Linked DNA regions of Homo sapiens. The protein of the gene in region 1 interacts with the protein of each later gene in a biochemical or structural test. Each region holds a gene or a part of one and is shown on either strand. Other genes may lie near its edges.

Region 1 (3,912 bases):
CACAGTCTCACTCACTCTGTCACCCAGGCTGGAATGCAGTGGTGTGATCTCAGTTCACTGCAACCTCCATCTCCCGGGTTCAAGCGATTCTCCTGCCTCAGCCTCCAGAGTAGCTGGAATTACGGGTGCGCACCACCACACCTGGCTAATTTTTTTGTATTTTTAGTAGCGATGGGGTGGTTTCATCATGTTGGCTAGGCTGGTCTCGAACTCCTGGCCTCAAGGGATCCGCCCACTCGGCCTCCCAACATGCTGGGATTACAGGCGTGAACCACCACATCCGGCCATAATTTCCGTATTTTTTGTAGAGATGAGGTTTGGCCATGTTGCCCAAGCTGGTCTCGAACTCCTGAGCTCAAATGATCCGCCCACTTTGGCCTCCCAGAGTGCTGGAATTACGGGCGTGAGCCACTGTGCCTGACCTTATTAATTCTTTAGGACCCAGAAACATCATCACTTCTGTTGGGTCTTCCTCCAAAGAGATGTCACTTACACCTTCACTCTTTCCTACCATTTTATACAAGACTACAACCTCTATTTAACGCTTCTTATTATTTAAGTACATGTTTTTCCCAACCACTCTGAGTCCTGGGACAACATATCTTTTTCTTTCTGTTCTAGTTTAGAGCTTGGCACATAGTAAAAGTCTTCCTAAATGTTGCACGAACGAGTAAATGATTTTAATTTCCACAAACTCCAGGCTTCCCTGATTGGCCCCTGCCTGTGAACATGAGTCACCAGTTGTTATCTTGAAAGCCTCAGGAACTTCAGACGCAATTCATCCTGGCTACCCAGTGGGTCCAGAAAGGACCCAAGTGCACAAAGGGGCCGGCATCGGCCAATCCTAGGGTGGGGAAAAGTTAGGTATCCATGCCCCTGTGCCCACTTCTTCCAGGCACAGCCCTTGGTTCTTGCTCTAGCTCCCCTAAAGACACAGAAAATATTTAGAAGTTCACTTAACAAAAATATTACAGCTGGAAAGGACCTCAGAGATAACAATGGTAGTCCATCCACTTCATTTTATAGATGAGGAAAGTGAGGCCCAAACAAGTAAAGGAGCCGACTGAAGCGCCCGTGGTGAATTAATGGCACAGTCGGAACTAGAGCCCAGGCCTCTCTCCTCTCTAAAGTCTAAAACATTCTTGGATTTCAGTTTCCTCTTCTGTAAAACGGGGTGAAAATTAGCCTCTCAGGACAGTGGTGAGGAGCAAATGAGATAATGAATGTAAAAGAAATTACTATATTAGCAACAGAAATCAGAGCGGAGCGAGATGGTGTAGAGGAATCTAAGGGGTGTCCGGAGACATGTGTTCCAGTCATGTCATCTCTGTGAACCTCAGTCTCCTCATCTGCAAATGCAGGACCTGGCCCGGCTGACCGCCGAGACCCTTCCAGCTCTGCCGACCCAGGCCCTGAGGCCCTTCCCGGAGGGCCGGACCCTGAGGGAAAAAAACGAAGGAGCCCGTGGGGACCCTCGAGTTACCGTCCTGCAGCAGCGCAGTCTTCTGGGCTGTCCGCAGACTCTCCAACCAGCCCGTCACCGCCATCTTTCCCCTGCTAAGCAGCACGCCCAGCCGCTGCCATGGCAACCGTTCCAGAGGGTCACTTCCGGCTGACTCGGAAGCTATTCTGGCCATTTGCCCTCCTTCCCCCCTTCGTCCGCTCTCATTGGCTCTGCTGGTAAGTGGTCTATTCCTGCCCACCCCCGGGTGACTAGCTTGGCCAGTAGTCGACCCCACCCGGGGACCGACTCTGGGGGTTGGAGAGACTCTTGGGGCCGGGGTCGGGCACTCCAGCTTTCTTCTAGCCCCGAGCTGGGATTCCCTGGCCTGCGCCAGCTGCGTACACGGCGAGTACACCGCACCTGCCCGGGACTTCACCCGCAGCTGCGAGACTCCTCCATTCCCGGAGGGCTCCCCACACCTGCTGCGGCCGTGCCCCATCTCCCCGCAGCTGCGGCGCTGAGCACCCCCATGTCGAGAGGCTGAGACCAGGACAGGTGCAGGGCGTTCCCACTCACCCCCGAAAGTCCTCCTCCTTCCTCTGCGAGTCTGTGTTGGAGGTAGAGAAATAGTATGTGGGGTTTATGTGCAGGTCCTCCCCAGGCTCCGCTCCATCCCCTAAAGCTCCATTTCCTAGCCCAGCATCCCATTTGGTAAAGCCCTTCGAAGTGGGCCGCAGCAGGGCTGTGCTGAATCTTTAGCGCAACCCCTCTGAGGAATGGTGTCGTTTCCTACTCCTCAAAAGTACCCCCGATGGCACCAGCCTTCCCCTCATTTCCCGTAATACTCCAACTTCGAAAGGCTGGGGAGTGTGAAGCTAGGCTAAACCACTGAAGTTTAACCGGGTTTGAAGAGACCCCCTCCCCCGACCCGCTTCCCCAAACTGGGCTGCTACCCCCAAAGCCTGGTCAGGAAAGACCCTACCTCCATAGGCAAAGGGGTTGGAGGGCCTCAATTCTGGATTTCCACGTGCAGCAGCCCTGACCAACGCTCCAATAGGCCGGGATCCAGCCATACTTCAATGGATCCCAGGGGTATCTTGAAGGCATTTCCCAAGCGGCAGAAAATTCATGCTGATGCATCATCAAAAGTACTTGCAAAGATTCCTAGGAGGGAAGAGGGAGAAGAAGCAGAAGGTGAGCTGACCCAGTCTCAGAACCCTCGTGTGCTTGAACCCACAGCCTTCATGTGCTTCAGCCCTACGTTGTTTATGTCCAGAATCAGATATTGGAGCTGACTCTGCCTGTCCAGGGCCTGCAGGTCTGTTTGTATCTACCTTGTGCTAAGCTTGGTCCTGGGTCTTGGACAGGCTATTTGCTGTGTTACCTTCTTTTCTACCCGAAGACCTCTATCCATCAGAAAAGACTCCCTGGGCCCTCAGGGAATGACCAGTATAATTTTTGCCCTGAGGACTGGGACAGAAACCCCCCTCCATTACCCAGGCTTGTTGTTAGTTGTTTTGCAGCCAAATTGGCAAATAAATGGCAGAGGCTTTGGAGGCAGGGTTGTCGGGTCTGTCAGACTGTAAGGGCAAGAAACGCGCTTTGTTGAAAGAATAAATGATAAAGGATTCAAAGTATGGAGAGAGGCTGGGCGCGGTGGCTCTTGCCTGTAATCTCAGCACTTTGGGAGGCCGAGGCAGGCAGATCACCTGTGCTCAGGAGTTCGAGACCAGCTTGGGCAACATGGCGAAACCCTGTCTCTACTAAAAATACAAAAAATTAGCCAGGCATGGTGGCACACGCCGGTAATCCCAGCTACTCGGGAGGCTGAGGCATGAGAATCGCTTGAACTCGGGAGATGGAGGTTGCAGTGAGCCAAGACGATGCCACTGTACTCCAGCCTGGGCGACAGAGTGAGACTGTCTCCAAACAAAAACAAAACAAAAGAAAACAAAACAAACAAACAAAAAACAAAGTAAGAAGGGAGGAGGCATTCATTAAACAAATATTTACAGGTTACTTACAATGTGCCAGACACTTCTAGATTGCACCAAGGAACAGGACGTATGAAAATCCTTGTCCCTTACATTCAAGTGCTGGCCTGTGAGAAAATTTGCTATATGTAGAAGGAAAGCTGTCTGGATGGAAGGGAAATGCTTATTTTCAGGGTAGGGGACTGTGAACACGTCATTCAGATCATGTTAGAAGTTATGTCGTGGCCAGGGGGTGGCAGATAAAAATTAAAAAGTTACAACAGTAGTCATCTGGATGTTCCTTCCACAGAGTGGCTGAGCTCCCTTCGGGCCCATGTTGTGCGCACTGGCATTGGACGAGCCCGGGCAGAACTCTTTGAGAAGCAGATTGTTCAGCATGGCGGCCAGCTATGCCCTGCCCAGGGCCCAGGTGTCACTCACATTGTGGTGGATGAAGGCATGGACTATGAGCGAGCCCTCCGCCTTCTCAGACTA
Region 2 (3,812 bases), on another chromosome or scaffold:
CTTGGAGTTGGGGTGGGGTATTGGGGTGGGAGGATTGCTTGAGCCGAGGAAGCAGAGGTTGCAGTGAGCCAAGATCACACCACTGCACTCCAGCCTGGGTGACAGAGTGAGACCCCATCCCAAAAAAAAAAAAAAGAATGGGAAACCATTGAAGGTTATAAGGAAGGAAGTGACGTGATCTGGAAAAGATTCCTTTGCTCTTTGGAGAATAGATTGTAGAATGAATGTGGAAGTAAGCAGGTTTGGTGAAGGAAGTTTGGCTATGAAGGGAAGGAGGGTGGGATTTGATTGTGTTACGAGCCAAGGGGAAAATCTTTCCCTTTGCCCTCTGAAGATCTGCTGAAAAATCAGCTCACAAAAGGCAGGTTAACTGGAGAAAAGGCATACAAATTTATTAACATGCACATTGGGAGAACCATAAAGTGATTACCCATCTCCCTACAGAGTTCGTGAGTTTATATACCATCTGGCAAAACAGATTATGGGAGGGGTGTCTCACGTGTGTCCATGTGAAGAGACCACCAAACAGGCTTTGTCTGAGCAACAAGGCTGTTTATTTCACCTGGGTGCAGACAGGCTGAGTCTGAAAAAAAGGAGTCAGCAAAGGGTGGTGGAATTATCATTAGTTCTTATAGGTTTTGGGATAGGCATTGGAGTTAAGAGCAATGTTTTGGGGGCAGGGGGTGGATCTCACAAAGTACATTCTCAAGGGTGGGGAGATTATAAAGAACCTTCTTAAGGGTGGGGGGGAGATTACCAAGTACATTGATCAGTTAGCGTGGGGCAGAAACAAATCACAGTGGTGGAATGTGATCAGTTAAGGCTATTTTCACTTCTTTTGTAGATCTTCAGTTGCTTCAGGCCATCTGGATGTATAAGTGCAGGTTACTGAGGATATGATGGCTTAGCTTGGGCTCAGAGGCCTGACAAGGGGTAGAAGAGAAATTCTGTTTTTCTGTTTTTGTAGAGACGGGGTCTTGCTATGTTGCAAGCCTAATCTCGAACTCCTGGGCTCAAGTAATCCTCCTGCCTTGGCCTCCCAAAGTGCTGGGATTACAGGCCTGAGCCAGCATGTCCAGCTCTATTTGTTTTTAAATAAACCGAACTTTGGCCAGAAGGAGATTCTGTTGAAGGGCAATAAAGGATTACTAGAGAGAATGGAATGGGGACAGAGGTTGACTTGTTAATAGTTCTCTTTGGAATTTGAGTGATCCTGAGGTACACAATACCTGTGAAAGGGTTTGTTCAGGTGTGGTTACATGTTAGTCTTATTGGGAGGGGAAGAAAAAACAAGTATTCTTTTTAGTGAGTTTGGACTTTAGGCAGATAAAGAGTTCCAGAGAACAACTTTATCCTGGCTTTGGGAGAGTCTGGGGTGGAAGGATCAGAGAGACCTTGCGGCTTCTTGAGTTCAGCATGTCAGAGGGCCATATTTTGGGGTATTGGTTTCTTTTCTTTTCTTTTTTTTTGAGACAGAGTCTTGCTCTGTCTTTGTTGCCCAGGCTGTGCAGTGGCATGATCTCAGCTCACTGCAAGCTCTGCCTCCTGGGTTCAAGCGAGCACGTCTGGCTAATTTTTTTGGATTTTTAGTAGAGATGGGGTTTCGCCATGTTGGCCAGGCTGGTCTCGAACTCCTGGCCTCAAGTGATCTGCCTGCCTTAGCCTCCCGCAGTGTTGGGATTACAGGCATGAGCCACCGTGCCTGGCCTGGGGTATTAGTTTCTGAGTTCCAACAGTTAGACGGGATTGGAGGAGCAGGACCCTGAAGAGGAGGAGGGTAAGACAGTGCAAATGGAGGTAGATTTGAAGTTGGTTTTTTTTTTTCTGAAGGAGGAGGCAAGCTCTTTTGATGAAAATGAGGTGGTAAAGTCAAAGGTTTGGGGGGAGAGTTTGATACAGAGGCTTAGCAGGGACTGCATTTTATCACAGTATAAGAATGCTGGTCGTGGATTTGAAAGAACAAGTCGCTTAATCTCCATAAACCTCAATTTCCTTATAACTAAGGTGGAGGTGATACTAGTACATACCTCATAGAGTCACCAGGAGATTGAGAGATCCGGTAAAGCTCTTCATGGGGTCTGACATAGAGTAGGCACTCACAAAATATCAACTAATTTTAGCTGTTAGAGAAAAGGCGGCCATTATAACAGTTAGGGAGCAGTGAAAATCAACCAGGCACATTTTCTCATTGTTGATGGTCAGCCACCTATGGTTTACTAGATTAGGAATAAAAATAGCTAATCTCTGTTCTCCCACTGATTTGCCATCTGTTCTCAGACAGATCTTTTGTCCCTCTGATCCTTGGTTTCTTCTAGGATAAAATGAAGGTTTTGGACTTAATGACTACTACAGGCTGTTTCAGTGTAACCATGCTACATCTCTAAGAGGCAGAGAAACCGCCTACCCCCATTCTCCCAGACACACCTAAACAACCCCTATCCACACACACAGTCACAGTAAGCATCAGAGATACACAAATGCTCCCAAACAGGAGGCTTTCATCCTTGACCCATCCCAGCCCTGGCCTCACAGTCTTTGCATGTCTCCAGGGCTGTAACGCCGGCCCCCTTGAGGCCACTTGCTCAGCTATACTAGTTGTATCTCAGTGCTGCAGCCAGCCAAGAGTAAACCCGTGAGCATCTTGAGAGTGCTTGAGAGAAGCTGGACCCCATGTGAATGGTGGATGAGAGGGAGATAGCTATCACCCTTGGAAGGCCTCAAAATTTGGCCTCATTGTGACTGACTGCTTTGGCTGGGTCTTTTTGTTTCAGGCCATCATGAGGAAGCCACGAGCAGCCGTGGGAAGTGGTCACAGGAAGCAGGCAGCCAGCCAGGAAGGGAGGCAGAAGCATGCTAAGAACAACAGTCAGGCCAAGCCTTCTGCCTGTGATGGTAAGGAACTAGGTTGTGGCCCAAGGCTCATTGGCCATGAAAGGCAGATTCAGGCTGGGAAGGGATTGTGATACGTATCAAGACATTAAGAGACTTACTAAGGGCCAGGTGCGGTGGCTCACACCTGTAATCCCAGCACTTTGGGAGGCCGAGGCAGGTGGATCCCTTGAGCCCAGGAGTTTGAGACCAGCTTGGGTAACATGGCGAAATCCCCTCTCTATGCTCGCGTGGTGGTGAGCGTCTGTAGTCCCAGCTACTCGGGAAGCTGAGGTGACAGGATCGCTTGAGCCTGGAAGGCAGAAGTTGCACTGAGTCAAGATAATGCAACTGCATTTCAGTCTGGGCAACAGAGCCAGACTCTTGTCTCAAAACAAAAGAGACTCACTGAGGGTGTAATTCTGACTGTATTGCTGTGTGACATTGGGACAATTGCTCTGAATGGCTGCTTTCTTACCAGTAAAATGGAGCAGTAGTTCAGCATTTCCTCCCTCATGTGGCTTTCATGGGACCAAATGAGTTTATGAGCCTGAAAGTGTTTTGTGAATAGGAAGGTCCTGCACCAGTATACATTCTAGCTGGCTAAAACTATTAGGTTTTCATTATGGCTCAGAGACAAGCCAGTAGTACCACCCTGAGAAAATTAAGGCCAGAAACTTAGCCACAGCTACACACAATTACATAACTCTGGTCTGACTCCAGCTCCAAAGCTTAAGGGGGTTAGTTGGGGGAAGCCCTAAGTGGGAGCATACTGCCACAGGCTGCTGTGTCCCAAGACCCTGATGCACAGCCTGTGCAGGGATGATTGCTGAGTGTCCTGGGGCCCCAGCAGGCCTGGCCAGGCAGCCGGAAGAGGTGGTATTGCAGGCCTCTGTCTCCTCATACCATCTATTCAGAGACGTAGCTGAAGTCACAGCCTTCCG

What was found.
Region 2: the proteins of POLL (region 1) and MUTYH form a complex in vitro, tested with the Homo sapiens proteins (one study listed by IntAct).

The regions. Positions count from the first base shown.
Region 1 is NC_000010.11:101,585,972-101,589,883, reverse strand, and holds the start of POLL (DNA polymerase lambda), read left to right. Parts: upstream 1-1,626; 5' UTR 1,627-2,062; exon of another isoform or gene 2,063-2,477; 5' UTR 2,478-2,523; coding exon 2,524-2,638; intron 2,639-2,683; exon of another isoform or gene 2,684-2,762; intron 2,763-3,727; coding exon 3,728-3,912. Other genes in the region: protein DPCD, read right to left, coding at 1,484-1,547.
Region 2 is NC_000001.11:45,333,471-45,337,282, reverse strand, and holds part of MUTYH (adenine DNA glycosylase), read left to right. Parts: intron 1-2,315; exon of another isoform or gene 2,316-2,456; intron 2,457-2,771; coding exon of another isoform or gene 2,772-2,777; coding exon 2,778-2,892; intron 2,893-3,649; exon of another isoform or gene 3,650-3,679; coding exon of another isoform or gene 3,680-3,721; coding exon 3,722-3,812. UniProt on the Homo sapiens protein: Involved in oxidative DNA damage repair. Initiates repair of A*oxoG to C*G by removing the inappropriately paired adenine base from the DNA backbone. Possesses both adenine and 2-OH-A DNA glycosylase activities.